2 separate regions of the Homo sapiens genome follow, and region 2 is linked to region 1. Evidence: fine-mapped expression QTL. A gene starts in region 1. The other region holds a variant in brackets. All regions are shown on one strand. Distances are between the middles of the regions. Region 1 holds the start of FIRRE (firre intergenic repeating RNA element). Region 2 overlaps FIRRE (firre intergenic repeating RNA element).

Region 1 (17,633 bases):
TCACCACCACTGGCCTACAGGTTCCTCCCGCCTTTTGACTCAGAGATGCCATGTGTAATCTCTCTATATGTCAGAATAGCAGCCCCCCACTTTGTTCCTGACCCCAATCCATCCTACTATGCACTGCTTATCTGAAGCAATATGTATTCCTTCTCGGCACAACCCTTATCCTCACACTTGCTTCCACCTCTCCTTCCACCCCTAACTTGACCTCTATCCCTGATTCCAACCTAATCCCTTACCCTATGTAAAATCGGTGCTTCCTATTATCAAGGAAATGAAAAACAGACATCTTCAACCCTCACAAAATTCCCAATCCATCCCGTCCCTAACTATGATCCTAACACTCAGAATAATTGCAAAAATCCTGCATTGTGGACACACCTGACCTTCACTAACCCCATCTTCACTTGATCCCTGACTGCTACCAAGACCCCTTTCACCTATAGATCACTCTTTTTCAATGTCCATATGATCGCCAAAGCACACACCTTTGGTTTCATCCTGTCACTAGTCCTGATGCCATCTTTAAGTGTCACCAACTATTAGACACACACACCTGATCCTTTATCCCCTCACCTTACTGTCTTTTAAGAAATCAAGACTGGAAGATACACAGTAGTGAGAAGATGTCCAGGAGGTGCCCCCTTGATTCTGTGGTCTGGGAGGTCCTCCAGAAAGGGTGAACCTTCATGCCCACCCACGCACCCCGGCTCCAACCCCATTTCCTAGGCCTCTGCCTTTCACTGAGGAATGATTTCCACTGGTTTCCTGTAAGGCCATGTCGCAGATACGGTTAGAACTTGTGTCTGGATCTCATTCTACTCTGCTTCTGGGGCCTGGCCTGACATGAAATGCTAATCTGGTCCGGCTTATGTTTATGTCAGTGAAGCCATCCTCATGAAGAGGACGTGCACATTAGACCACAGTGGGGTTTCTAGAACATGTCCTGTCCCTACATAGGAGAAACTATGGGTCAAGGTATCTTTGGTCCTAGATGCAGAGAATAGCAGACTCTTTCTGTAAAAGGCCTGATGGTGAATGATTTAAGCTATGCAAGCCACAGGTGGCCTCGGTCACATAGCCTCCATTTTTTCAAGCAAAGCTTTAAAAATGTAAAAATCACTCTTAGCTTTCAGGCCTTACAAATACAAGTCACTGGCCACATCTGTTCTGTGAGTTAGCTTGCCAACCCCTGGCTAGACATTCATTCTCACCTCTCAAATCCATCAAAGCCCTCCCTCCTCTCCTGGGCTTTCCATAGCACAAGTGCAGGTTTATAATGAATTTCCTCACCATGAGTACCTGAAAAGAGACTATGGAATTGAGTTTTGTGTACACTGTGAGGGAGAAGTAAAGTTTCATTTGCACGCACGGATGCCCAGTAATCCCAAGACCACTCATTGAAAACTCAGTCATTTCCCCCACAGAACTGAAGCGCTGCAGCTGTCATATATCACATGTTTTATTTTAAAAGCTATGGCTTTCTCATCAGTGACTATGGAGGCTACAAGACAGTGTCACGTCCTCTTGAAAGTGCTGATGGGAAAAAAAAAATCAACCCAGAGTTCTCCATCCTTGAAAATATCTTCACAGATGAAGGTGAAATAGATGTTTTCAGACAAAAGACAACTAAGATTCTTTGTCACTGGTAGGCATGCAATAAAATAAATGCTATAGGACATTCTTCAGGTTGAAGAAAACTACATCAGGGGAAAATACAGATCTTCCAGAGCCAGAACATGTTCCAGAGTAAAGAACATCAGAAATGTTCAGTGTCTGAGAATGTACAAAAAAAATTTTCACTTAGTTCCTTTAAAATATACTTGAATGCTTAAAGCAAAAGTTCTAACATCATTTTGCTGTGTTTATAATGTATGTACATAAATTACATATGACAATAATAGTATAAAGGACACCGAGGAATAGTAAAAGTATGTATATTGTTATAAGGATTTTACATTCTGTATGAGGCGGTAAAATATCAACTCTGAGAAGATTATAAAAAGTTAAGGATGCATATTGCAATCGCAAGAATAACCACTAAAAAATAACACAAAGTGGTATAGCCAAAAGGCCAACAGACATATTATAATAGAATTCTAAAAGATAAAGTGTTCTAATACTTGAAAGGAAGGAAAGGGGAAATGGAAGAATACAAATTAATGAGGACAAACAATGTAAACTATAAAATTGTAGCCCAAAATTAAAACCTATCAGTAAATACATTAGCTGTTAATGGTTAAACATTCCACATAAAAGACACAGTTTTTTTGAATAGATACAAAAGCAACACCAATCATACCTTGTCTGTAAGATATGGACTTTAGCAGCTTTAGAAGTGTTTTTGAAGAATCATTCTATGTAAACAATACTGTCATCTGTGAAAGCACTTTTACTTCTTTCTTTCCAAACTGTAATCTTTTTTTCTTTTTTTTTTTTTTTTTTTTTTTTGCCTAATTGCACTTCTTAGAAAATCTGGTATGACGTTGAATAGAAGAGGTGAGAGACGAATTCCTCACGTTGCTCTAGGTCTTAAAAACAGTGTTGACTTTTTCAGTGTTAAGTATGACATTAGTTGTATATTTTTACCATATTGAAGATATATTTTCTTCAATTTCTAGTTTGGTGAGAGTTTTTTAAAATCAGGATTGGTGTTTATGTTTGTCAAATACTTTTTCTACACAATTTCAGATGATTATATGCTTTTTCTTATTAATTTTATAAATGTGAATTAACCTGTTAATTTTTGAAACTTTTAAAAACAGCTTTATTGAGATAGAATTCACACACTATAAATTCCACCAATTTAAAATGTACAATGTGGTGGTTTTCAATATATTCACAGAATTGTGCAATCATTACCATAATCAATTTTAGAATATTTTCATCACTCCAAAAAGAAATATGCCTACTAGCAGTTCTCATTCTCAGCTTCCTCTAGTCCCTGGCAAACACTAATCTACTTTCTGTGTCTATGGATTTGCCTATTCTGGAAACTATATATAATTGTAATCCTACAAGATATGGTCTTTTGTGTCTGGTTTTTTTCACTTAGCATGTTTTGAGGGATTTTTCATGTTGTACAATGTATCAATAATTCATTCTTCAATATGGTTGAATAACAGTCCATTGTATGGATATACCACATTTTTATATATATTCATCAGTTGATGGACATTTAAGTTGTTTCTACTTTTTGTGTGAACATGTTTTCATTTCTCTTGTGTAGATAAATAGGTTTGGAATTGATTAGTCATATGATGATAGAATCTTCAAACTTTTGGGGAACTGCCAGACTACTTCTAAAGTGACTGTACCATGTGATATTTCCACAAGCCATATATGAAGCTTGCAGCTTATGCATATCCTTACTGACACTTGTTATTATCTGTCTTTTTAAAATATAGACAACCTAGGGGCTGTGAAGTAGTACCTCACTGTGTTTTTCATTTGCATTTCTCTAATAGCTAATGAGGTTGACCATCTTTTCACATGCTGTTAGCCATATACATATCTTCTTTGGATAAATATCTATTCAGATCATTTGTCCATTTTTAAAAGAGTTATATTTTTATGACTGAGTGGTAAGAGTTTTTTATATTCTGGATACAAGTCCCTTACCAAATATATGATTGGAAAACATTATCTCCCATTCTGTGAGTTTTTTCTTTCTTTCTTGATGGTATCATTTGTGAAACAACTTTTTTAAAACTTGATGAAATCTGGTTTGTCGAGTTTTTTCTTTGGTTGGCTATGCTTTTGGTATCCCTAAGAAACTAATGTGTAAAACAAAATCATGAGGATTACTCTTATGAAAGACTGTTTTTCTCTACTGTTACACAGAACCATAAACATATACGGATTCTAGAGGGTGAATATGTACTAAGTACAGTTTCTGGAAGGCTTCTAATCAAACACTAGTATAGTTTGTATCTCAAAAATACAAGTTAGAGTCTACAGGTTTTAACTATTTATGTCTTAAAAATTGAAATGTTGAAAACGAGCAAGGGTTGATTCTGAAATTTACAGAAAACCCAAAAAAGGTCCTAGTATACATTTAATAAAGGTACAAGTTATACAATATTGTTTTATTTCAGATTCTATTTTCCATAAGAATAGGCACACTTCTATATATACATTGAAATGATTAATGTCCTACTTTTAATGGTCATGGAAAGAAAAGCTTTTGGCAAATAATTACTTAACATAAAATCCAGTCTTCTTTGGCATGCTTAATGGCATTGTAAGTGGCCTCGCTATAAAAGACCTGAGTAAAGCATAAAAAAGAAAAATAAATTAAAAAGAGAATTCCATATATAGGTCATGTCCATTTAAATTCATACCAAAAAACCCCTGTACACTCCCATGCAAAAGTGTATATAGAAGAAAAGGTGGAATGTACTAGATTGAAATATCAATTGAGTTTGTGTGATTCAGAGTATCCTCTCTTTCCTGTTTTACGATTACTCATTTGTCATTTCTTTGCCAGATGCATCTATTATCCTTAAGAACTTAACAACAAAGCAATCGTATGAGATTAAAAATAAAGTACTATCATGAAGAGATATGCTATTCAGTATCCATTATTCAATGTTGAATGAAGAAACAATGACACAAAACTCCACCTACATTTTAACTAGAATGTAATTGAAGAAAATAAATGGTATATTCCTCCCTGGATGAATGTATGTATGCTCCAAGCATCTTGTCAGCAAATAGGGGAGTTTATTGATGTGCAGTAGGATATATTTATTTAGTTAAATAATGTCAGCTCTCATGAGTGGTTGTACACCTTATTTACAACATTTGAATACATGTACCCATTAAGCTGCTAATAGTGGTTCCCTTGGGATAGATTGATTTGGGATAAAGTATTTCCTTAGGTCTTTCATTGATTCGTGCACTCTATGAAATTTTTCATAATGCTTCTATTATCTTTGTAATTCAATAACAAATCCAGAATAAATATGTGCAGAAGGCTGTGTGCAGTGGCTCACGACTGTAATCCTAGCACTTTGGGAGGCCGAGGTGGGCGGATCACCCGAGATCAGGGGTTTGAGGCCAGCCTGGCCAACATGACAAAACCCTTTCTCTACTAAAAATACAAAAATTAGCCGGACGTGGTGGCACATGCCTGTAATCCCAGCTACTCGGGAGACTGAGGCAGGAGAATCACTTGAACCTGGGAGGCGGAGGTTGCAGTGAGCTGACATCGCGCCATTGCACTCCAGCCTGGGCAACAGAGTGAGACTCTGTCTCAAAAAAAAAAAAAAAAAAAAGTGCAAAAGAAATTATTGGTGAAAACTTGCTGTGTTGAACACATGAGAGAGTCCTAAGGAATCTATATCTCTGAATGTATACAACATATATCTGTGAAATATGGTTGAAAATACAACCATATTTTGCAGGTCCTTGTCCTCTTGAGGTGGCATTACCTATGATTTTGCTATGCTTCTTTAAAAATGGATGTTGTACCTGAACACATTATTTAGAAATACATCTGATTTGTGAAATCCCAAAAGTAAGAGGCTACTCTCTAAAATATAATCAGTATTTCAAAGAATATTTAATGAAGTTTGGAAAGTACTCTAGCTACAATATGTACAGAAAATGTATCTGAACACTGAAGGTACAAAGGAATTTGAATATGATTTTTAATGTTATTATATGTACATAAGAGATGAGAATGACATTTTGTTTATTTATTTATTTATTTATTATTTATTTTTGAGACAGAGTCTTGCTCTGTCACCCAGGCTGGAGTGCAATGGCGCGATCTTGGCGCACTGCAACCTCTGCCTCCCGGGTTCAAGCGATTCTCCTGCCTCAGCCTTCTGAGTAGCTGGGATTACAGGCATGTGCCACCACGTCCAGCTAATTTTTGAATTTTTAGTAGAGACAGGGTTTCACCATGTTGGTGAGGCTGGTCTTCAACTCCTGACCTCATGATCCGCCCGCCTCGGCCTTCCAAATTGCTGGGATTACAGGCGTGAGCCACCATGCCCGGCCTCTTTTATTTATTTTGGAGACAGAGTCCCGCTCTGTCACCCTGGCTGGAGTGCTATGGCACGATCTTGGCTCAGTGAAGTCTCCACCTCCCTGGGCTCAGGTGATCTTCGCACCTCAGTTTCCCAAGTAGCTGGGACTACAGACACACTCCACCTTGCCAGGATAATTTTTGTATTTTTTTGTAGAGACAGGTTTCACCATGTTGCCCAGTCTGGGTGAATGACATTTTAAAAGTCTTTATTCTTGTTGGGATTGAACTATCATTTATTTTTGGCTTCATGATTTCTCAATATCTGAACAGTTTGCCAACAGCAACTATTGCTTTTTAAATTTTCTGGATAATAAGGCTCTTTCCAGGGTAGAATAAAAAGATTTCAAGTTCTCCAAGTACATATATGTATATGGGAACATGGAAATTGTATGAGATAATGATGATGTTTCTGTTCAAAACTACCTTCGGTATTCATTCAATTATGTTTAAAGATAGATAAACTACACATTAGTATACAGTCATGCCCTGTATAATGATCTTTAGGTCAATGACTGACTGCATATATGATGGTTATGTCATACATAATATTATAATATCGTATTTTTATTGTACCTTTTCTATGTTTAGATACACAAATACTTACCATTGTTACTATTGCCTACAGTATTCAGTATAACAACATGCTATACCACTTTGTAGCCTAGGAGCAATGGGCTATATTCTGCAACCTAGGAGTGTAGTAGGCTATACTATCTAGATTTGTGTAAGTACACTATGATGTTTGCACAATGATGAAATCAACTAACAATGCACTTCTCAGAATGTATCCCTGTCATTAAATTAGGCATGACTCCATATCCATCTATATGTGTACTTATGTTTAAAAAGTATATATATTTTTTGAGACGGAGTCTCACTCTGTCTCCAGGGCTAGCGTGCAGTGGTGTGATCTTGGCTCACTGCAACCTCTGCCTCCCAGGTTCAAACGATTCTCCTGCCTCAGCCTCCCTAAAAAGTGTATATTTTTAATTATGATTATTATAGTAACAATGCACTTAAATTTCACTCTCTTTGTCCGTATATTAATGTGTGTTTGTATATGTATGTATATGTGTACATGTGTATATGTATACACATAGAAACTTTGATATTTAGCTTCATATATAATAATAAGTTTACATTCATATGGGATTTATTCATATATCATGATTTGGATAATATTTTCACTTCTATTTCCTTGGCAATTTGTCATTACGAAAAATTTGCAAGACCTAATTTTTAGGAAATAAATAAATTTAAAGGGAAACATTAAGAAAAGATTATAGATGAATATAAAAATATGTCAATGCATTCACCTTGAACCTTTGATGGAGTACGTGTTTGGGTCACAGTCACAGTGCTAAAGAGATGAGGACACAGACTTTATTTATACAGTAATGCAATCTGTTGTTAATTTTTTTTAGTAATAAAATAAGATTAGGCCAGGTGCAGTGGCTCATGCCTATAATCCCAGCACTTTGGGAGGCTGAATTGGGAAGATCGCTTGAGCCTACAAGTTAGAGATCAGTCTGGGTAACATAAGGAGACCCCTTCTCTACAAAAAAATATAAAAAAGAAAAAAATAGCTGGGTGTGGTGGTGTGTGCCTGTGGTCCTAGCTACTCCAGAGGCTGAGGTGGGAGGATTGCTTGAGCCTGGAGGTCAAGGCTACAGTGAGCCATGATTGCATAGACTTGCCAGACCCAGTCTCTAAAAATATAATAATAAATAAATAAAATAAGATGAAATTTTAGATTTAATTGTAGGTTAAAATTTTGAGAAGGAAGGAATATCCTATATTTTCTGATGCACGCATGTTATACTTGTGATTCAATATTTGTTTTAGAGTATACACATGTTAGCATAATAAAGATTAGAAGCTCTTCAAATCATGATACCTGAGAGGAGACATCATAGGAATTAAATTTCCAGTTGTTAAATAAGTGTTTTATGAAGTGAACATGTCTTCAGAGACCATATTGTTATTGAATGTAGCAATCAAGAAGCTCTTGGTTAATGTTTCATTTACTAAAAATTCAGGTCTTGCAAATTTTTCATGATAATGACAAACTGCCCAGGAAACAGAAGTGAAAGTATACTCCAAACCATAACATACAAATAAACCTCATTTTAATGTAAACTTACTATTGTGTATGACACGAAATATAAATGTTTATGTGTATATATTGAAATGAGTGCATGAGTATATGAGTTTGCATGTGTATGTTGAAACTGTGAAAGGAAAATAAATCTCAGGGCCCCAAAATCACTAAGCCAAAGGGAAACGTCAAGCTGGGAACTGCGTCAGGCAAACCTGCCTCCCATTTTATTCCTAAATAAGATGGCTACAATGATTGAACAAAGCAAAAACAAAAAGCTACATATCTCCCTCACAATTTGCCCACTAGGAAATTCCTTGTGAGCCCCAAGATTTTTACCCTGAAACAGTTCTGTTGAATTTCACCCTGACAATGTAAATTTTGGCTTATCCTCACAGGTATGGAACAAAAGACAGAACTCAAAGTCTTCCCTCCGCTCACTTGAGACAAATGCATGTCTGATTGCTTCCTCTGCCCTGTGTTTATTTTATCCTATGTAAAAAATGCAGATTCACTGAGCTAGATGAATGTGTACGTGACTATTCCTCTACCCTCATCTCGCCTATGAAGGGCTGATCAAAGACTCAAAAGAATGCTACCCTTTGCCTCTTATCTACCCACATCTTTTCAAAATTTCTTCCCCTTTCCCCAGTATCTGCCCTTTCCCCTTTAAATATTGAAGCCCTCAAAATCATCTTTGAAGAAAGGCATGGACCTATCTCCCAGGCATGCGTGTACTTAAACTTGCAAAATAAATTTCTGAAACTATTGAGACCTGTCTCAGACACTTTTTAGTTCACAAAACATAATCCAGATGTTTATCAGTATTACTAATAGGTACTGTTTATGACAGTGCTTTACTCTTGGTCAGCACATGGTTCTTTTCTGAATCCTTTGCAAATCCTTTGCAAGCACCATGTCTTAATTACGTAAGATAAAATACCATAAGATTGACCCCTAAGTGATAAGCATATACACACTAAAGTCACAGGAAACCATTGACAGTCATATAAGAACATAGGAACATGCCTGTGTTCCGATTTTAAATTATTTTGACTATGAGACTGTATCAGTCTCCTCTGACTGGAATTTATACATATTTGAGTTTGTGTACCCTTCCAAATGGGCACTGTATAGCACGCAGTCTTGAGAACCATCTAGACACTTAGCTTAGGGTTCCAGACAACTGCTTCTCCCTCAACACACAGGCCTAGTGCCTAGGCCAGAAATTGAGTAGGACTCCCGGGAAACCTGGGAAGTGAGTCAGGCAAGAACAACATGGATTTGCTCTTCTCCAAGCCCTTAGATGCAACCATTTGCTTTTCCCTCTAGGCCTGGATCCCTGAGGTTTGACCCCTGATACACCAAGACAATTTAGTACCATGAGAAAAAGTTAGGTGAAGAAAAAGCAGAACTGTGAAGACTAGGTAAGTGGAAATTGAGTTCTTGAACTGAAAAGACCCCTGATGAGAGTGTAGGTTTAGGCGCCAGTTTGATTTCAGATGAAAAACCAAAAGCAAAATCACAATAGTATGAGCGAGTTTCTCAAGTCAGCCATATTTCCTGGTGCCTTAATCTGTTGGTCACATTTTTTTTTCATACCAGACGGGCGGGAGAAGAGGGCTTGGGGGCAGTATTGGATAGAATTCCAGGAGCAACACTGCCATCGTGAGGAAATTTCTGGAAAAAGCCCCATCCCTTAGAGGGCTTATATTGGAAAGTTCCATTCTGTTAGAGGCTGAGCAGGCTCGGACCATGAGCTGGATCTTAGTTCCACCTCCTGAGGCCTACCTGAAGCTCTGGACAGAGTGAGGTCCAGGTGTAGGAACTGGCCCGTGGGGAGGGAAGACTAAGTCGGCCTCTGGCAGGAAGTCCAGGCCCAGGAAGTTGTAGGGTGGGGTCTTGGTATTCTCCCAGTATGGGCGGGACTGGAGGAAGCCACCAACCAACGAAGTACTGGGCCTGTGGGTATTCGTCTCTCTCCCCGCCCCTGAGAGTCTGGGAAAGGCTGACACGTGGTGCCTTCAGGCTCTGGGGCCTAGGACCTTTGTGGTAGCAGAGTCACTGCAGAGAACCAGACAATACCAGGTTGCTTATAAAAGGATGCCATGTGCTTGCTGGAGGTCCCAGGTGCAACCAAATTGCTTGCAGCTAGGAGGACCTTGAAGAGAAATGGGATCAGCCCGCCAAACCAAGAAGGGTTAGCACTTTTGCTAGGAGAGCTGACCACGCACAAACAGATGAGAACCAAAACCGAGTGAAGAGGATTGAAGATGAACCCACATTTTAAAAGTTCTTGTCTGCTGGAGGTGGCATTACCTGTGACCTCGCTTCACTTCTCCATACATGGCTGTTATAGCAGGTACATTGTAAAGAAGCATGATTATTTCTAGAAATGCAAAAACATGTGGCAAGATTTTAAAACCTGTCATTATTCTAAAGAATACTTAATGAGATTTGAAGAGCATTCAAGTTACAAATGAGGAAAACTTGTTTTAGCATTCAAAGTACAAGAGAATTTGAACATTTTTTAAGTGTATATTATTTGTGCAAAGTGAAGATATAAGAATGTATGGCAAGGATATTTTTAAGTGGCTATTTCTTGTTGTGATTGAAGTACCGTTTACTTTCTACTTATAATTTCTTAAAATCTAAACGGTGCCAACAGTGGGTGTAACTTTTGTAATTTCTTGAAATAGAAAGGTCTTCTAGAGTAAGATACAAAAAAAATCCAAGCACTCAAATATACATTGTCATTCATGTATGCAAATGGTATAAGGTGGTGTTGAAGAATTTGTGCAAAACTGTATCCAGTTTGCATTCAATTGTCTTTAAAGAAAAGGATAGTCCATGCTCCCAGAGGCTGAATAAAAATAAATAAATAAAGAGAAGTAAATATATATATAATAGGTGCAATCATTTTCTTTTCCCTCTAGGCCTGTAACCAGGTAACTTGGACCTATCTATCTAATGCTTATACATATATATGCATTATGCATATCATGCATAATCATGGTCAGTGTTAGAGTGAGTATGCGTTTCAACTTTATAGATTTTACATAAAATTTTAAGATAAAATTTTGGTATAAGTTTTGAAAAATATAAACAAAAGAAACCCTAATGTTCTGAGGCATAAGCACATAGTGCCTGTTCCAATGTTAGCATGTATATATATATATATATATAGTCAGCATACTAATGATTAGGTAAGGCAGGTATCAAAATTAAGATACTTGAGTGGTGGCATTATAGGTATTATGTCCTGTGTATAAATTTTTTAAAAATTGAGAACCTAACATTCTTTAATGAATTAGTCAATCAAGAAGCTCATTGCAAATATTTTATTATCTAAAATCCAGGTCTTGCAAATATTTCATGACAATTTCAGTTACCCAGGAATGAGCAGTGAAAAGTTTGCATCTAAAACATGATGCATATATAAATTTAATTTAAATATGCTTATTGTAGTGTATTACCGTAAATATAGACCTCTGTGCATGTTGAAATAATGGGAGTAAATATGCAAAAGGCTATTAGTGTTTAATACAAGATTTTATGACAGTGCTTTTGTTCTTGATCAGCACATGGTTATTTTCTAAATTCTTTACAAGCACCATGTCTTAATTACTTATGAGGAAACACCATAAGACTGATTCCTAAGCTTAAGCAGTGGCACACACATATATAATAAAGCCATAGGAAGCCATTAAAAGTCAAATAATGATGTGCATGGGAACTTGCTTGTGTTTTAATGTTGAATGATGGAACCATAAGACAAAATCATGTTCCTTTCTACTGGAATTTTGTAAGTTTGGAGTGTGTGTGTCACCCCAAGAGGGATATTGTATGGAATTCAGCCTTGAGATCTATCTGGACCCTCCTATTAGGGTTCTGACATGGCTGCCCCCAACTCAATACACAAGACCTAGTGCCCAGGTCAGAAAATGGAGGACTCCCAGGGAACCTGGCAGTGAAACAAGTCACATGGCCTGGTGCCTAGATTTGTTCTTCTCTAGGCTGTTATTTCCATTATTTTCTTCACTTTCTTAGCCCTAGGTCCCTAAGAATTTCCCACTGAAGCAGATAACTTGGGAAATTGTTGGGGATCAAGGTTGAATGAAGAAGAGCAGACCTACAAAGCTATGGTAGAGTGGAAATGGGCATTTTTTTGTTTTTTTAAATTTTATTATTATTATACTTTAAGTTTTAGGGTACATGTGCACAATGAGCAGGTTAGTTACATATGTATACATGTGCCATGCTGGTGTGCTGCACCCATTAACTCGTCATTTAGCATTAGGTATATCTCCTAATGCTATCGGAAATGGGATTCTTTAAACAAAGTATGGCTGATGAAACTGGGTGGTATAGGCTTCAGTCTGAGTTCAGAGGGAAACCAGGAGCAAAAGTAAATTCGAAAGAGCAGATTTTCCCCAAACAGGGCCAATAGCAAGGCAGCTTTGTTTCCTGTCTCCTTTGTCTTGGTAGCTTTTTTCAGATTGAATGGGTGAGAGGAGAAGGGCTCTGGGGGTGGGGTGCCCAGGCAAGGCTAATCAGCTTTTCCAGAGCAATACTGCCATCAAGAGGATGTAGTTTGACAAAACACAAACCCAAAGTTGTTAGAGCCCCCCCAAGTTTTAGCAACTGAGAAATGTTGGGCCTTTTGTGAGGTTGAGTGGACCCTAGCCCTAAGTAGGTCCCCTTCACTTTAAATCTGAAGCCTTCCAGGAGCTCTGGACAAAGGCAGGATCCTGGGGGAGAAGCTGATAAGTGGGGGGTCAGGGGGAGGACTGAAGGGACAGCTACTAGGCAGGTGGAGTATAGGAAGTATTGGGGCTTAGATATCTACCCAGTGAGGGTGGGGCTAAAACAAATGGCTCAGATCCTATTTGGGGGGACTTCTGGCCACATATCCTCTGGCCATGCCCTTTGAACAATGAGGTAGGGGGTTGGCACAAGGTGTAAGCAATGTTAGGGTGCAGATGAAACATCTCATTCCAGATGATATCTAACAGCAGCCAGCGTGCTTTCTGGGGGTCTCAAGGATACCTAAAAGTCTGGTGCCCCCATTGCCTAGAGCAAGGAAGACCTGAGGAGAAGGCAGTGTGTGTCACTTGGCCAAGCCAATAAATCCTTGAACATCAATAGGAGTGCAGATATACACAACCAGAAGACCTGGAAGTATTTTCTGAAGCCAGGAGGTAACAGCTACCATGGCTTTGCAGCACTTTTTCTAGGGCCCAGTGTGAAGGCCTACCTATTTAGAGAAACCTACTCTTAGCTCTATTAAAGGAACAGAAATGAGTTCTTTAGCTATTGGCCTTCCCCTAAGGAAGATGAGGCCATTGAGACTTGGGACCTAACTGTTCATTCAGATTAGCAAGTATTGTTCTCTGTGCCTGCTTCTTAGCCTTTTTCTAATGAAGATTCCTTGTAAGCCCTCTAAAAGCTGAGCACATCAGGACCCTCAGGACACTTGCCCATAGCATAGCAAGAAAAGGCAAAAATTTTGTAAGATTGACTGCATGTGAGAGTTTTCTCGTGTATCAGTGATGGATTCAGTGGCTGACCACTTACAGAAGAGAAAGGAATGTTATTCTCATGCACTGCTGTAACATATGGTCACCACCTGAATTCTACTTGCCCAGGGTGGAGCTATAACATCTACTAGGAAGTTTTTAGCAACTACTACAAAGACCATAGGGTCCCTGGGGAAATTGACTTTCCTGCTATTCATGCCTTGGTCTAGCTGTCCTTGAGGATGTTATAGGTTGACATGAGCCAAGAAGGGTTTGAAAACATTTGAGAAAGCATGTCTCAATGGTCTCAAATACCTTATGAAAGTGTAAGGTGACCTCTGACCTTTTCAGCCTACTTCAGCTAAGCAGGTGACTGAGAGAAACCCTGCATCAGATGGGTTAGGCTGCCTGCTGTTGAGTCACAGTTTGACTTGACCATATGCTAGACTAGGAAAGCCAGATGTGTGGAGACAGTGCACCATAACTTAACTTAGAATTGTGAGTGACAGAGAGGTAGCCCCAGCCCTAGAATTCCTCAGGGTCAGGAATTTTGTATTCCCACACATTTTGGTTTACATTAAGAGACTATCTGGTCAGAGAGTGGATAGAGGCCTAAAGCAGCAGCAACTTGCTGAGTCCCAGGAATTCAAACGTGACACCGTGACCAGGAATGGGAGATTATAACTATTGCCAACTCTCAATACCACTCAATCATTGACAGTCAGCTCAGATCAAAAGCTGTTTCAAAATGTAGTTAAAAAGAAAACCACTCAGCAGGAAAGATGGCAAAGGAATAAGGCACCTCTATTATCACAGTCTCAAATTCACCAGTACTGAAGTAAATTGCAGTTCACTGTATTCTTCCATAATGCCCTTAAATCTTCATCATAACCCCGAGCAAGCCTTTGAAAAGGAATCCATTGATGTCAGTGTTTGTGTAATGATTTGTAGAATTGGACAAGGTCCTACCAGGTGAGAAGCACTGTTAATTGGTACACCTCTTTGAAGGTCAACAGGCCAAATCATTTAACCTTTCACATGAGCATACCCTTTGTCCAGAGACTACCTCTTGAAAGTGATCGCACAGCCAAACTCCCACAGGAAAGTAGAAAGGAGAGGACAAAGAGGATCGCTGAGATTTCTTTTGCAAGGATGGCGGTGGGGAGGGGGCAAAACATCCATTGTCCAAGTTCAACTACAGTAAGTTCAGCTATAGTAGGTAGTCTTTTTAAGCCTTTGGAAAGATTGAAATCCATTCGCCAAGTCCTCAATAGGGGAGATGACCACACCTCTGATTTAGGGAAGAAAATGTGAAATGTTGTAACGGGAATCAAACCATTCTGGTTGGCTAATAGCAAGGAAATAGAAATGAAAGATGAAGTCTTTCTTTCTCTCTTAATTACATATGTTATTAATTCAAGTTGAACACATAAACCTATTGGTTCAGAAAAGCAAATAGGCAGAAAGGAAGTTATCTGGAAAGTTCCCCAGTCAAGCAACTAACAGTGTGTAATTTTCTACAGTGATGTTTCTAATGACTTGCCTTCACGTTTTAACTTACACTTGTCCAAAGCCTTGAAATGTTGAAAATGAGAAAAGCTTACATTTGCAAGTTTTTTAAAAATCAAGAAACCAGCATCATCTCAATATATAATTAGGAAAACAACATATTACAAGATGTATTTTTCTTTAAAACATACACACTTCTACACACATGCAAGATTTAAAGGCTCTATTCTGAAATTCTATTTCCAAATTTTACTTAACAGAAAATCCAGCTTTCTGAAGCATATTTCACGACATATGATGAGACTTATGTGATGTGAGACCTGAGAAAACTATGATAGAAAGAAGCAACTCAAGTTGCAAGGATATTCCTCATGTATCATGCAAGGATATTCCTCATATATCATGTAAGTAAAAAGTCACCAAATCCTGACAACCTGTCCACATGTGCCCACACATGTACAATTATATAATAAAAAGAGCAGAATGCAATATAACAAACATCAATGGAATATCTATTAAACTTCTTAAGAGTATCATTTCTTTACTGCTATATATTTGTTCCACTTACTGATTTTTTTCCAGATGCATATAATTCTTACGGTTTGATCAACAGTAAAAGAATGCTATGAGATTTAACCATAAAAAACTATCTTGTTCCTCAAGAAAAGTTAATGATATTGGAGAGTACTCATTTTCTAGTGTTGAATTGAGAATTCAGGGCACCAAATTCTATGTGTAGTGGGACCAATGAGGATGGATTTGAAGAAAAGAAATGGAAGTGTGTGTGTGTGTGTGTGTGTGTGTGTGTGTGTGTGTGTGTGCGCGCGCGCGCGCGCCTAGCATTGTGCTGAGGAATGTGGGGAGTATATTAATGAGATATAGATTAAATTTATTTCACTGAATAACATCAGTTCTTATTGAACAGTTATATATCATTTTTTTAATGTTTAAACCAATATACTCATCAAGCTGCTAATAGTGGATGCCTCAAAAAAGTGGGATTTGTGATAAAGTGTTTCCATTTGTTCTTCATAGATTGTGTATTCTAAGAGATTTTTCAAGAAGCTGATAAGATATTTGTAATTTGAGAGTCAACCCAGAACAAATATGTGCAGAAGAAATTGTTGGTGAAAACTTGATTTGTTGGCTATTTGAGACCTAATATATTTATATATTTAACTGATCACAGAAAACAGGTGTATTCAAGACACCCACATTTTAAAAATCCTTATCTGCTTCAGTGGGCATTACTTGTGGCCTCACTGCACTTCTTTGTACAAGGCTAATGTGTCTGGTTATTTTGTAAACAGGTATGCTTAATTTTAGGAAATGCAAAAATATGAGAAGCAACCTTAAAAATATTGCATATTCCAAGGAGTAGTTAATGATGTTTCCAAAGACCTCAAACTGTCCTGAGAAAAGCATGTCTGACATACAAGGTAACTGGGATTTTAGGTTAAAAAATGTACATTATATATGGATAGGGAAGATAAGAGAATGTATGGCAAAGACATTTTAAAAGTTATTTCTTCTAGTTTTCATTGAGATACCATTTATTTTTGGCTTTGTAATTTCTTAAAATATGAGCAGATTTCCAACAGCAGATGTTACCTTTATAATTCCTTCGAAGAGAAACCTCCTTGTACAATCAAGTATAAAGAAATTTCCAGCTAGGGAAAATAGATGTTGATATATGGAAACATGCAATTTATGTAAGTTGGTGCAGAAGACTTTGTATAAAACTATGCCCAGTATAAGTCAAGTTATAATTAAGGTGAAATAAATGTGCACATATATGTATAGCAATATTATATATTATATATGCCATATTTAAACTATAATAAATGGAGCAATAAGAAACATTTTTGTTTGTTTGTTTGTTTGTTTTTTGAGACGAAGTCTCGTTCTGTAGCCCAGGCTGGAGTGCAGTGGCGTGATCTCAGCTCACGGCAACTTCCGGCCTCCTGGGTTCAAGTGGTTCTTCTGCCTCAGCCTCCAGAGTAGCTGGGATTACAGGCGCGCGCCACTGCACCGGGCTAATTTTTTGTATTTTTAGTAGAGACGGGATTTCACCATGTTGGCCAGGCTGGTCTTGAACTCCCGACCTCAGGTAATCAGCCCGCCTCGGCCTCCCAAAGTGCTAGGATTACAGGCGTGAGCCACTGCGCCCAGCCAAGAAACATTTTTTTGCAGTGTTTTGATTACTAAACATGAAGACAAAAATTTTATGTAATGTGGCCAAACTGTCTGAGAATCAGGAGTGGCAATCTCCTAGGCAAACCATCATGTACAAACAACCAATTTTAATATAAATTCATTGTCACATATGAACATAAATATAAAACTCTGTGTGTATTGAAAGGAGTAAGAGGACATGATCCAAAAAGTTATCAGTGGTCTTAATCAATTTTATGACAGCGCTTTACTCTTTATCAGTGCATGGTTATTTCTGAATCCTTGGCAA
Region 2 (14,829 bases), 62 kb after region 1:
GGAGTGGAAGTTTATTTAACAGGCTTTAGAACAGGAAAGAAAGGAAAGAAAGAACCCTTGGAAGAGATCCAAGTGGGTGCCTGAATGGCCAAGAGAACAAAAAGACCTTTTAACCTTGATCATGGGACCTTATAGGCTTACCTCTTGCTCATGATTCTTCCTTTAGGGTGAGCTTTCCGCATGCGCAGTGCCCTCCTTACCCTTTGGAATTGAGCACTGTGCAGTGTGTTTAGGGAGTTATACACATGCCCATCTGAGGCTTTTTTCTTTTTTCTGGTGGCATGTACCCGGAACATCATATTTCGCCATTTTGTGTCTTAATACGCATGCCCAAGAAGCTGCTTCTCCCTGTGGCCTGCATTCAATTCGTACTTTTAATATTAACAGATGTGGATCATCAGGAGATTGTCTCTCCCAGGCTACCAAATTATCATTTTTAGAGGGGCAATGTGATCATTGCCGAACCATCATGTGACATTCCTACTGGGTCAGGGAGAGCCCTTTCCTGCCGTGCTCATTGCCTATCTATCTGTAACTACTTTTTCATATGTGACTATTTTGTCAGGCACATTTTGAAGAAGGATGAGTGTTCCTACAAATTCAAAAACAGGTAGCAAAAGTGACATCAATGACAATGGTGCAGTAGACACTTTCTGTAGTCCATCTCTCCAGAAAAGCAACTCAAAACAATCTATAATATGTAATTAGAAGATCATTTTCTCAGCACGATATATGGGGCATTTATTAAAACCTACAGCTAATAATATAGTCAAGAGGTAGACTGAAAACTTTGCTCCTAAAATCATGAACAGGAGAAAAATGCCCACTTTTGCCGCTTCTCTTAAACATTATACTTAAAATCTAGCTGGGGTCATCAGGCAATGAAGATATATAAAAAATATCCCAGTTGAAAAGAAAAAATGGAAATTATTTCTCTTCACAAATACAGTGATCTTATAAAAAATGCTGCCAGGCGCAGTGACTCGCACCTGTAATCCCAGCACTTCGGGAGGCTGAGGCATGTGAATCACCTAAGATCAGGAGTTCAAGACCAGCCTGGCCAACATGGTGAAACCCCGTCTCTACAAAAATACAAAAATTACCCGGGCATGATGGCGGGTGCCTGTAATTCCAGCTACTCGGGAGGCTGAGGTGGGAGAATCGTTTGAACCCAGGAGGCAGAGGTTGCAGTGAGCCGGAATCGTGCCATTGTACTCCAGTCTGGGCGACAGAGCAAGACTCCAGTCAAAAAAAAAAAAAAAAGCTCAAAAACCCAGAAAAACAGTATTAGAGGTAGTGAACAAGATCCAGCAAGCAACTGCAGGACAGAACATTAACTTGGAAAAATCAGTAGTAGTTGTGTACACTAGCAATGAATAATCTGAAAATTCAATTAAGAAAGCAATTCCATTTACAATAGCATCAAAATGAATCATAATTTCAGGACAATAATTAACTAAATAGATGAAAGTCTTGTACACTGAAAATCACAAAATAATGGAGAAGTTAAAGATAACCTAAATTTTAATAAAGAACATCCTGTGGTAATGGGTCTGAAGACTAAATATTTTTAACGTGGCAATACTACCCATAGAGATCTATAGATTTAATGTAATCCTTATTGTTATCCAATGAGCATTTTTTTTGTAAAAAAGGAACACAAATCCTAAAGATCCTATTGAATTGCAAGAGATCTGAATAACCAATGTAAACTCTGAATAAGAAAAACCAAGGTGGAAGACTCACACTTCTGGATTTCAAAACTTATTAGGAAAGCTGGAGTAATCAAAGCAGTGTGATAATCAAATAAGAATACACACAGTGATTAATGGAAAAGATGGAGAGCCTGGAAATAAACTCAGACACTGTGGTCAATTCATTTGTGACAAAGTTATTAAGGTCATTTTATGAGTAGTTAATAGAGTCTTTAACAAATAGTACTTAGACAACTGGTTATCTACATGCAAAAGGATGAATTTAGACCTCTACCTCACATTATATGCAAAAATTAACTCAAAATATATCAAATTTCTAAATATAAGAGCTAAAGCTATAAAACCTTCAGGGAAACTATAGGGATACATCTTCACAACTTTAGATTTGGCAATGATTTATTAGCTATACCACCAAAAGCAGCAATGACAAAAGAAAAAATAAATTGGACTTCCCTGAAATTAAAAACTTTTTGCATCAAAGTACACAATTCAGAACTTGAAAAGCCAACTTACAGAATGGGAGGAAATATTTCCAAATCAATTATCTAAAAACTTCTAATATCCAATAAAAACAAATAACTCTTAAAACTCAACAATAAACAGACAAATAACCCAATTTTTAAAAAATAGGCAAAGGGAGAGTGATATCACCAACATGGTATAGCAGAAGTGATCTGACTTTACCTCAAAGAAAAGTAAAAACAGCTGTGTAGAGACAAGATTACTAGAAGCAATATTCCAGAACTGAACATTGAGACTGTGACTATCCATGGGGCTATAAGGAAGTGAAAAAGTATGAGCAGCTAGAAAGACTAATGGACTTCTCTCTCCATGACTCCCCAACCCAAGGCTGCTAGGCACCATGTAGAAAAGTCCCCCTTGACTGGGCGCGGTGGCTCACGCCTATAATCCCAGCACTTTGGTAGGCCGAGGCAGGTGGATCACCTGAGGTCAGGAGTTTGAGACCAGACTGACCAATATGGTGAAACCCCGTCTCTACTAAAAATACAAAAATTAGCCGGGCGTGGTGGTGTGCCCCTATAATCCCAGCAACTCGGGAAGCTGAGACAGGAGAATTACTTGAACCTGGGAGGCAGATGTTGCAGTGAGCCCAGATTGCGCCACTGCACTCCAGCCTGGGTGACAGAGTGAGATTCCATCCCCCTGCTCCCCCCCCCACCAAAAAAAAGGAAGAAAAGAAAAAAAGAAAAGTACCCCTTGGTTCACAGTTTCCTCTGTAAAATGTGAGATCAAGGCAGAGAGCTAGCTTCTCTCCCATTTTGGTGTCCTTTGCAGGGATCCTATTCTTGCCTCAATCCCTAGGAGGCATCCTGACTGCCTGTAGGAGGAAAAATCCCTGAGGGGGTAGTCTGAGACTGAAAGTGGAGTTGAAGCTAGCAACCCCAGTGCATTAAATCTGGGGACTTCTCTTTTACTCAGGCAAAGAAGATCTCAAACCAGAGCGGGACATCAGCAACAACATGAAAATGAACAGGAATGGAAAAAGAACAGGAAAGGCTAGACTTATATAAATTAGATTAAAGTCAAAAACTGTAGAGAGAGACAAAGAAGGTCACTGTATAACAATAAAGATGCCGGCCGGGCGCGGTGGCTCACGCCTGTAATCCCAACACTTTGGGAGGCCGAGGCGGACGGATCATGAGGCTAGCAGATCGAGACCTTCCTGGCCAACACGGTGAAATCCCGTCTCTACTAAAAATACAAAAATTAGCCGGGCGTGGTGGCAGGCGCCCGTAGTCCCAGCTGCTCCAGAGGCTGAGGCAGGAGAATGGCATAACCTGGGAGGGGGAGCTTGCAGTGAGCGGAGATCGCGCCACTGCACTCCAGCCTGGGCGACAGAGCCAGACTCAAAAAACAAACAAACAAAAAAAACAAAACAAAACAAAAAATGAAGATGCCAATTCAGTAAGAGGATATAACAATTTAAAATATGTACGTACCCAACACTGGAACACACAAATAGATAAGGCAAACATTTGGAGATCTAAACGGAGAGATAGACAGGTGTACAACAATAGTGGGAGACTTCAGTACCCCACTTTCAGTAATGGACAGCTTATCCAGACAAAGAAACATTGGAATTAAACTGTACTCTAGACCAAATGAACTTAACTGACATTTACAAAATGTTTCATCCAATTGCTGTAGAATATACATTCTTGTCATCAGTCAGCACATGGAACACGCTCCAGTATAGAGCATGTGTTAGGCCACAGAACAAGGCTCAACAAATATAAGAAAAGACCCGAAAATATGAAAGTACCAGAAGAAGAGACTGCGGAAATGCTTTAAGACATCATTTTGGGCAATGATTTTTTTGTGGGAGACCTCAAAAAGCACTGGCAATCAAAGCAAAAATGGACAAATGAGAGTAAATCAAGCTAGAACGCTTCTGCCCAGCAAAGAAAACAATAAAGTGAGGAGACAACCTACAGTAAGAGAGAATATATTTGCAAACTTAAAAAAGCTCAGCTCAATAGAAAAAAAACAAATATATCTGATTTACAAATGGGCAAATGATCTGAATAGACATTTCTGAAAGAAAGGCACACAAATGGCTAACGGATACATGAAAAAATGCTCAACATCACTAATCATCAGGGAAATGTAAATCAAAACTACAGTGGGGTACCGTATTTCCCCAGCTCAAATGACTCTTACAAAAAAGACAGAGAGTAACAGGTGTTGGCTAGTAAGCAGAGAAAGAGGAATGCTTGTATAATGTTGCCTGCAATGTACATTAATACAGCCTCTATGAGACACAGGATGGAGTTTCCCAAAAATACTAAAAATAGAATTACCATATGATGTAGCAATCCCACTGCTGGGAAATCAGTACTATATATATATATATATGCATTCTCATGTTTATTGCAGCATTATTCACAGTAGTCAAGATATGGAATCAACCTAACTGTTCATTAATGGATGAATGGATTAAGAAACTGTGGCATACATATAAAATGGAAGATTATTTAGCCAGAAAAAAGAATGGAATTCTGTCATCTGCAGCAACATGAATGGAACTTTAGGACACTATGTTAAGTGAAATAAGCCAGATACAGAAAGACAAATTATCACATGTCCTCACTCATATGTAGGAGCTAAAGGAATCCATCTCATGGTATGTATAGAGTAGAATGGTGGGTACCAGAAGTTAGGAAGAGAGGGGAATGAAGACAGGTTTGTTAATGGCTACAAAAATACAGTTAGACAGAAGGAGTAAGTTCTAGTGTTCAACAGCACAGTTAGGACATCTATAGTTGACAATAATTTAATGGTTATTTCCAAATAGATAAAACACATTTGAAATGTTCCCGAACACAAATAATAAATGCAGTAGGGAATGAGTATCCCAGTTTTCCTTTTTTGGTTATCACACATTTTATGCATACATCAAAATACCATGTGTACCCCATAAATATGTACAACTATAATGCATCAATTTTAAGAATAGGCAAAGGTCTTAAATAGACAATTCTCCAAAGAAGATACACAAATGACCAACAATTACATGAAAACATACTTCCATTATTAGTGTTTTCAGAAATGTAAATCAGAACCACTTCATGATACCACTTAACACCCACTAGAATGGATATTACTTAAAAAGAACAAATATGGGTGGGGAGGCGGAGAAATTGGAACCCTTCTGCAGTGAAGGTGGGTATGCTAAATTGCGCATCTGCTATGGAAAAGTTTATCAGTCCTTCAAAAATTTAAACATAGAAATAACCGTATGACCTAGCAGCTCTACTCCTAAGTATACTCCGCAAACAATTGAAAACAAATACTCAAAAAAGTACATGTATATACTCACTGTATATATTTATTAACAATACCCAAAAGGTGAACACAAGCAAACATCAATCACTTGATGAATGGATAAACAAAATGTGATATATACATATGGATATTATTCAGCTACAAAAAGAAATGAAGTACTGACATATATTACAACATGGATGAAATCTGAAAACATGCTAAGTGAAAAAAGCAAAATGAAAAAGGCCCCTTATTGTGATGATCAGTAGTGAGGGAAAGCAGATGAGTGTTTGCCAGGGGCTCGGCATAGAGTGGCATGGGGAATGACTGCTTCATGGGTCCAGGGTTTTCTTTTGTGGTAATGAAAATTATTTGCCACTACACAGAGTTAGTGCTTGCACTGCATTGTGAATGTACTAAATGCCGCTGAATTTCACACATTTTAATGGTTAATTATATGTTACATGAATTATACCAACACAGTTTTAAAAAGTGCCAATATTTTTAAACCTATCATTATTTCCAGGAATAACTAATTATATTTGAAAAGTACTCAAGTTATCAGTTACAACATGGATGAAATCTGAAAACATGCTAAGTGAAAAAAGCAAAATGAAAAAGGCCCCTTATTGTCATGATCAGTAGTGAGGGAAAGCAGATGAGTGTTTGCCAGGGGCTCGGCATAGAGTGGCATGGGGAATGACTGCTTCATGGGTCCAGGGTTTTAACAACTTGTTTTAACAATTATACTACAGGGGAATTTGAACATTAGTTTATAAATGTACATATTATATGTGCAAAGGAACAAATCATAATACGTAGCCCAAACATTTTAAAAGTGATTATTTCTTCTCACTGTGTTTGACCTACCATATGTTTTCTGCTTATAATTCTTAAAATTCTTCTAGAGTAAAATATAAAAAAACTCAAGCACTCAGAAGTATATATTGATATGGATATATTCAAAGATTATAAGGTGATGCTGAGGATTTTGGACCAAATTTCAAATAGTATGAATCCAGTTATATTGAAAGTAAAATGTGTGCGGTACTCTGTGTGTATTCATATCTGTTCATATGCATATACAAATGTTTAAATACCATATATATGTTTTTTTTACACAGGATCAGACTCTGTTGCCCAGACTGGAGTGCAGTGGCAGGATCATGGCTCAGTGCAGCCTCAACCTCCCTGGACTCAGGTGATCCTTTCACCTCCACTTCCTGAGTAGCTGGGACTACAGGTGCATGACACCATGCCTGGCTATTTTTTTTTTTTTTTTTTTTTTTTAGAGACAGGGACTCGCTACATTGCCAAAATTGCTAATTACTAAATTGGTCTTGAACTCTCAGGCTCAAGTGATCCTCCTGCCTCAGCCTCCAAGAGTGCCAGGATTAGAGTTGTGAGCCACCACGCCTGGCCAATGCCATATATTTTATATCATGGTCAGTGTTATACTGAGCATGCATTTGAATATGATATTTTTGACCAATAAATTCATATCTTTAATTCATAGTTACATAAACAGAGACATTAATGAAACATTATAGCTTCATGTGAGTGGTGTGAATACATCCATCTTAAAGTTTTACTGGGGTTCACATCTAAGTGACTGAATATGAGATGTGCCTATTTCAATTATCATTTATTGAATTTTGTTTTCTTTCTTTTGAGATTTTAAAGATAAAATTTGAAGGTAAGAATTAGAGATAAAAATTCAAGAATAATTTTAAAATCCTAATTTTCAGAGGCATAACTATGTAAAATATATATATTTATATATGTGTTTATGTATGTATAAATAGATTTTATAGATTAAAAAAGCAAGGTGAGATCTTAATTCTTAATGACTAGTCCAATCACATAGTTCTTTGCAAATATTTTATTGTCCAAAATTCAGAAATTGCAAATTTTATATGACAATGTCAAAAACTGGTCAGAAATCAAATTTTAGAATGAAAATCTTCATTCATACTATGGAATATTCATACTAAAATGCAGTGCATAGCTAAATCCAATTTAAATGTAAATTCATTGTGTTGACTATATATAGAACTTTTTATCTATGTATTGAAAAATGGAATAAATATGGAAAAGGGTATCAGTGTTTAATATACAGTTTTATGAGACTGCTTTTCTCTTGATCAGCACATGGGTTTTTTTTTTTTACTTCTTTGCAAATTCCACCTTTTTGTTACTAATGAGAAAATATAGGACTGAATCCTAACTGGAAAACAGTAACACATATACACAGCAAAGTTATAGGGCAGTCTTAAGCCATGGCCATTTAATGACACAGGAAAATGTTTGTGTTCCAACGTTAAATAATGAAACCATGAGACAAAATCCTGTGATCCATCTGATTAAAATTTATAGTCATTCCTGTGTTTGTGTCCATTCGAATCGGGTTCTGTGTCTCTGTCAAGCTTGAGAACTACCTGGTCCCTTATCTTAGAGCTCCACTAAATGGCAGCCTCCCACTCAACATATAAGGCCCAATGCCTGGATCAGAACATGAAATGGAACTCCTAGGGAACCTGGGTAGGGAGTCAGGACAAGAACCACATGGCCTGGCCGGGCTCGGTGGTTCACGCCTGTAATCCTAGCACTTTGGGAGGCCGAGGCAGTCGGATCAGGAGGTCAGGAGATCCAGACCATCCTGGCTAATGCGGTGAAACCCCGTCTCTACTAAAAAAAAAAAAAAAAAAAAAAAAAAAAAAAAAAAAAAAATTAGCCGGTCGTGGTGGCGGGCGCCTGTAGTCCCTGCTACTCAGGAGGCTGAGGCAGGAGAATGGCGTGAACCCGGGAGGCGGAGCTTACAGTGAGCCGAGATAGCGCCACTGCACTCCAGCCTGGGCAACAGAGCAAGACTCTGTCTCAAAAAAAAAAACAAATGAACCACATGGCCTGGTGCCTAGATTTGCTCTTCTCCAAGACCTTAGGTGTTAACATTTCTTTGTTTGTTTGTTGTTTCCTTAGGCATGGATCCCTGAGGTCTGCCCCAGTACTATAAGACAATTTGATGTAAGAAAACACAGCAGATATAATACTGAGTGAAGAAGAGTATAAATGAGAAGATTGGTTGTGCAGATACTGAGTTCATGAAAAGAGGAGATGATTGATGAGGGTGAGTGGATCACACCTCGGTTTAATATCCAATGGAAAACAAAAGCAAAATGCTAAGAGTGGAATAAGTTTACACAAATTGAGCAAACTGCTAAGTAGTTCTAGTTTCTGGTGTCTTTGTCTCTTCTTGGCCTTTTTTTGAAATGTGATGGGCGGGAGAATAGCGCCTAGAGCAAAGTCAGTTGGCTTCTCCCGTACAATACTGCCATCGTGCGGAAACAGTTTCGTAGCATCCAAAGCCGTGAGCGTTTCCTCCATGTGAGCCCTAGCAATTGAAGGAAAAGCCAGTGAAGGCTGAACAGACCCGAGACACAAGTTGATCTTCCTA[T/C]CCTTTTCTCTGAGGCCTGGCAGAAGCAATGAACAAATGCAAAGTCTCCGTGAAGTATCTGCTGAGTGAGGGAGCAGGACTGAGCCAGCTGCTTCCAGGAAGTTTTGGCACAGGAAGTAGAGGACAGGGCCTGTTTTCTCATAGTGGGGACAAGGCTAGAAAATGATACAGCCAAGTACAGACCCTTGGGGCATTTATGTTATGAATATGCCCTTGGGAGCTTTAGGCAACCTGGTTGTCCTTGTGTTGTGGGGCTGTGACATTTATAGCAGCAGTGTTGGCTGGCAATGACAGGCCAATTCCAGGAACCATCTATCTGAAGTCAGCGTCACTCACATGGTCCTCAATACACTAAAATTCTAACCACCATTGCCTATAGCTAGAAGGACCTCTGTAGAGCAGTAAGGATACACTGAGATGCCTATGTGGGCCAGATCATCTTTTAGGAGAGCTGATATGCTAAAGAGGATGAAGGCCAAAAATGCAATGGAAGGCCTAAGCAATTATCTGAGCGCACAAGCCAGCAGCTTCTGTGACGTTATAGGTTCAGGAGAAAGTCTTTTGTCATAATAGGACGCCGATGTCATCTCAGTTCTCTCAAGGAGGGCAGATAGGTGGCTCTTTTCTGTTCGATGTCCTTGGTAAGTATGGCATTGTTTAGGCCTGAGCAAATCATTATCTACTGCATCCTAGCTAGTATTTTCTGTAGCAGCTTCAAATCTATTTCCTAATGAAGATATCCAACCTTTGGTGTGGAGACCTCTAGATACTTTATGACTCATAATTGAGAATCAAAATGGTGACTAAAAGTGTATGGGTGACTTGATCCTCATGACATTCTTCCTCAGAATTTATTATTTTAGTATCTGAATTCTTAATGAAAGGAATTAATGTTAGTCTGGTTCTGCACTGTGACATTACAGTGCTTCAAGAGCTTGTTCAGGTATGACCTCTCCTGGCCTCTGAGGATTCAGGCAGGCATTCCAGGGTAAGGCATTCTAGGGTAACCTAGCTTTTTTGACATCTTTGACTTTGTCTAGTTGAATGATGATCTGCATACATAAATGCTATTGGCATGCACAAGTGTCTTGGAGACTCTCTGGGAAGCATTTCTCCATGACCCTTGATATCTTACCTCCCCAGAGTATTTCACCTAAAGTAGACTTAGACATCTGCTAAACTACCTCCTATGGAGGAATAGTTTGACCTGACCATTTTCATGGAAGAATACAGACCTACCTATGGGACAGTGTCTCATATCTGAAGGTAGAAATGCTGGTGTCCCCAAACCTAGAATTCTTTAGGCTAAGTGATCTTTTATTCACCCCTTGCTAACTATCTTTAATAGAGGCTGTGTGCCTGGGCAGTGGATAGAAGCCTGGCAAGGAAATCACACCTAGCCAAGTACCAGTGGTAGTGACAAGGAGGTTGATTGGTTTATTCTGCAATGGAAGATAGTGTGGAGGGGCAATGAGCCTATCATTCCCATTTAGGTTGGATACATGTCATTCATTTGCACCAGGTAGTCCCTTTAGCCATCATAAAATCTTAATTGCATTCTCTGTATCCTCGTAAACAGCCATTCCTTGCCTCTGATTTAGGGAGAATAGCAAATTGTTGAACCTTGTGGATTAAACCTACCACACCATAAGATAAATAATAAATAACAAAGTAAAGTGTATTTTACTCTACTCTTTTTTTTTTTTTTTTTTTTGAGGTGGAGTCTCGCTCTTTCACCCAGGCTGGAGTGCAGTGGCGCAATCTCGGCTCACTGCAAGCCCTGCTTCCTGGGTTCACACCATTCTCCTGCCTCAGCCTCCTGAGTAGCTGGGACTACAGACGCCAGCCACCACGTCTGGCTAATTTTTTGTATTTTTAGTAGAGACGAGGTTTCACCGTGTTAGCCAGGAAGGTCTCGATCTCCTGACCTCATGATCCGCCCGCCTCGGCCTCTCAAAGTGCTGGGATTACAGGCATGAGCCACCGCGCCCAGTGCATTTTACTCTACTTCTAACATGTCATAACCTTAAACCAAACATATAGTCATGTATGTATTCTAGAGAGCCAATACGCACGTTGTGATGCATCTGTAAAAATTTAAACAAAAAATGAATGGTGTCTACATTTCTAAAGGAATGTTTCTGAGCATATATTTTTCAGAGTTACCTTCATTTACACTGAAGGCTTGCAATGTTGAAAACATTTACCATTTATGATATTCAAATGAATTCATCCTCCTGAAAGCTTTGTTAAAATACACACTTGATCTGCTCCAAACCACAGTGTAGAGTGTGACCCAATTTCAATACAGATTTGTTATTTGCATGAAATTAGGAATGTATATATAGCCGGGCGTGGTGGCTCACACCTGTAATCCCAGCACTTTGGGAGGCCAGGGTGATTGGATCACTTGCGGTGAGGAGTTGGAGAACAGCCTGGCCAACATGGTGAAATCCTGTGTCTACTAAAAATACAAAACAATTGGGGATGGTCCAGGTGGCTCACGCCTGTAATCCCAGCACTTTGGGAGGCCTAGGCGGGCAGATCACGAGGTTGGGAGATGGAGACCATTCTGGCTAACATGGTGAAACTCTGTCTCTACTAAAAACACAAAAATTAGCCGGGCAGGTGGCATATGCTTTTAGTCCCAGCTACTCAGAAGGCTGAGGGAGGAGAATCACTTGAACCTGGGAGACGGAGGTTGCACTGAGCAGAGATCACATCACTGCACTCCAGCTTGGGTGACAGAGCGAGACTCCGTCTCAAAAAAAAAAAAAAACAAAACCAACAAACAAAAAAAACCAAGTAACCAGGCCTAGTGGCATGCACTTGTAATCCCAGCTATTCAGGAGGCTGAGGCAGGAGAATCGCTTGAACTGGAGGTTGCAATGAGCCGAGATCTCGCCATTTCACTCCTGCTGGGAGACAGAGAGAGTTTTAGTCTCAAAAAAGAAAAAAAATGATGTGTATATATCGGGGAACCAGCCCCGATATTCACGTAGGTTCTTTTCTATTTTCCTTAAGCGTCGGCCAGCTTGAGAAATAAAGGGACAGAGTACAAAAGAGAGAAATTTTAAAGCTGGGCTTCTGGGGAAGACATCACATGTCGGTAGGTTCTGAGATGCCCCACAGGCTGCAAAAACCAGCAAGTTTTTATTAGGGATTTTCAAAAGGGGAGGGAGTGTGCGAATAGGTGTGGGTCACAGACATCAAGTACTTTACAAGGTAGTAGAATATCACAAGGCAAGTGGAGGCAGGGAGAGATCACAGGACCGAGGGGAAATTAAAATTGCTAATGAAGTTTCAGGCACCATTGTCATTGATAACATCTTATCAGGAGACAGGGTTTTTGAGATCAACCAGTCTGACCAAAATTTATTAGGCGGGAATATATGCATGGAAATATATTCTTTTATTAGGCGGGAATTTCCTCTTCCTAATAAGCCTGGGAGTGCATGGAAATAATCCAAATTTATTTATTTATTGCCTAGACAAATTGTATTGTAGTGCTTTCCATCTTTATTAGTACATTGATTTTTCTCAATCTTTGTCAAGCATTATTCTTTAATTAACTAGTGGGAGAATACTGTAAGACTTATATCTAAAAGACAAATTATAAAATACACATGCACACACACACACACACAAACAGACACACCCCATAAAGTCTCAGGAAATACTTGAAGACTATGTAGTGTCATGGGAACATGCCGAGTTTTGATGTTAAATGACGAGACCATGAGATGAAACTGTGAATAACCTTGATAGGAACTGAAGATATGTAGTATGAGTATCATGCCATGTGGAGCGCATATGGCATGCAGTAATGACAGCTATCTGGTCCCTCCTCTATGGTTCATGCCAAATTGTTGTCTGCAATGCAACACATGAGCTAAAACATGAAGAACTCCCTGGTTGTCTGGAAGGGGAGCCAGAATAGAGACCACCAGGATTTGTAAATCCTGGTGGTCTCGGAGCCTCAAGCAATTTTATCGCTGTGCTTTCATCCCCAAATTTATCCCCCGAGGGAGACAGTTTGATGCCATGGAAAGTACTGGACCTATAAATCTGAGGTAAATCGTAATCATATAGACTAGGTTAGGAGGATTTTAAATGTCTGAACAAATAAGATTTCTGATGAGGGTGGGTGGTTTCGGCCTTGGTTTGATTTCAGATGGAAAACAAAAGCAAAATTGCCACAGTAAGACCAGATGACTCCAAACTGGGCAAAAAGCAAGGCAGCCATGTTTCCTTGTGCCTTTGTCTTTGGGTGGCGTTTTTTCAGACAAGAAGGGCGGGAGAAGAAGGCTCCACGACACCTGTTAGCACATCTAGAGCACTACTGCCACCGTTAGGACATAGTTAAGCAACGCCCTACGCCCTATGCCTAAGCCATGTCAATGTCCTTCCCCTGAAGACAGTCCTTCCACCTGTTGGAGAAGGTCTGGCCTGTGGGGAGGGGGAAGAGGCTTGAGCTCCATGCTGCTCATCCTTGCCCTATCCTCAAAGACCACACTTTGGGAGGCTGAGGCGGGCGGATCGTCTGAGGTCGGGAGTTTAGGACCAGCCTGGCCAGCATGGTAAAACCCCATCTCTACTAAAAATACAAAAATTAGTCGGATGTGGTGGCAGGCGCCTGTAATCCCAGCTACTCAGGAAGCTGAGAATCGCTTGAACCCGGGAGGGGGAGGTTGCAGTGAGCCGAGATCTCGCCATTGCACTCCAGCCTAGGCAACACAGTGAGACTCCGTCAAAAAAAAAAAAAGACCTGGACATTGGTAGTGTCTTGGTATAGAACCTGGAGAGTGAAGGAAAGTAAATACTGTGAATGTCGCTTGGTAAAATCCTGTTCCTTGTACACGGTACTGATGCTACCAGAGACCCAAAGACCTGTAGCAAGATGCAAGCACATGAAAGCCTGCCAACTCTTGCTCCAAGGGGCAGGAACAGGAGACAGATGCCCACAAGAGCCTGCATGTGTGTTTGAGTGGGTTCCTGTTGTCCAGCAAACAACTGGGGAAATAGAGGCCCTGCCCCGGAAATTCCTGTGCCAGGACTGCCTGGCAGCTGCTGCTTCACTCCAAGCCCCTCACTCTCCAGGTTCTACACCAAGATACCGCCAATGTCCAGGCCTCTCTTAAGACCTTAGAGGAGAAGGCAACAAGACCTAGCCTGGAGCCCAATCCTCTTCCACCTCAGCATAGATTAGACCTTCCCCCACAGCGAGGCTTCCAGGGAAGAATACTGTAATGGCGGATTCTGTCTTCAAACTATTTCCTCACGGTGGCAGTAGTGCTTCATATTTTCTTGGAAGCTCTGTCTAGGAGCTTTCTTCTCCCGCCTTTTCTGTCTGAAAAAATGCTACCCAGAGACAAAGGCCCCACGGATCATGGCCACCAGGAGATTTGTCCAGTTTGGTACGACCTTGTCTTACTGTTGAATTTTTGCTATTTTCTTTCCATCTGAAAACAAAATGAGGCCTAAACCACCCATGCTCCTCACGAATCTTGTTCTTTCAGAAATTAAATATACTCCTCACTGAGACTATCTGGGTATGATTTACTTCACACTGTTACAGGTCCAGCAAGTTCCATGGCATCAAATTGTCTCCTTCAGGTGATAAACTGGGTGGATGAAGGTACAATTAGGAAAAATTTATTTGAAACTTGGGGAAGATCTTTGGCAAACAGTTTACAAATCCTGGTGGTCTTTGACCTGGTTCCCCTCTCGGACAACCAGAGAGTTCATGTTCTAGCCTCATGTGTTGCATTGTAGGCAAAAATTTGGTTTAAGTCATAGAGTAAGGACCATCTGGTCATTACTCCTTGGCCTATATGCTCCACATGGCGTGATCCTCATAGTCCCTATGTTCAG

Evidence for each region. PIP is the estimated chance that this variant, and not a neighbour inherited with it, causes the effect.
Region 2: its variant is fine-mapped to the expression of FIRRE in whole blood (TOPMed, PIP 0.99).

The regions. Positions count from the first base shown.
Region 1 is chrX:131,823,162-131,840,794 of GRCh38, reverse strand. It overlaps FIRRE (firre intergenic repeating RNA element), which reads left to right and starts at 10,152. Exons shown (of 10, transcript NR_152876.1): 1 at 10,152-10,503; 2 at 15,430-15,573. RefSeq lists an enhancer at 14,233-14,733.
Region 2 is chrX:131,762,348-131,777,176 of GRCh38, reverse strand. It overlaps FIRRE (firre intergenic repeating RNA element), which reads left to right. Exons shown (of 10, transcript NR_152876.1): 5 at 8,481-8,628. Among named protein-coding and RNA genes, the nearest start is that of FIRRE, 61 kb to the left of the region's middle. RefSeq lists enhancers at 8,642-8,936, 12,800-12,849, 13,902-14,181. The variant T/C (reference allele first, on the strand shown) is at 8,956.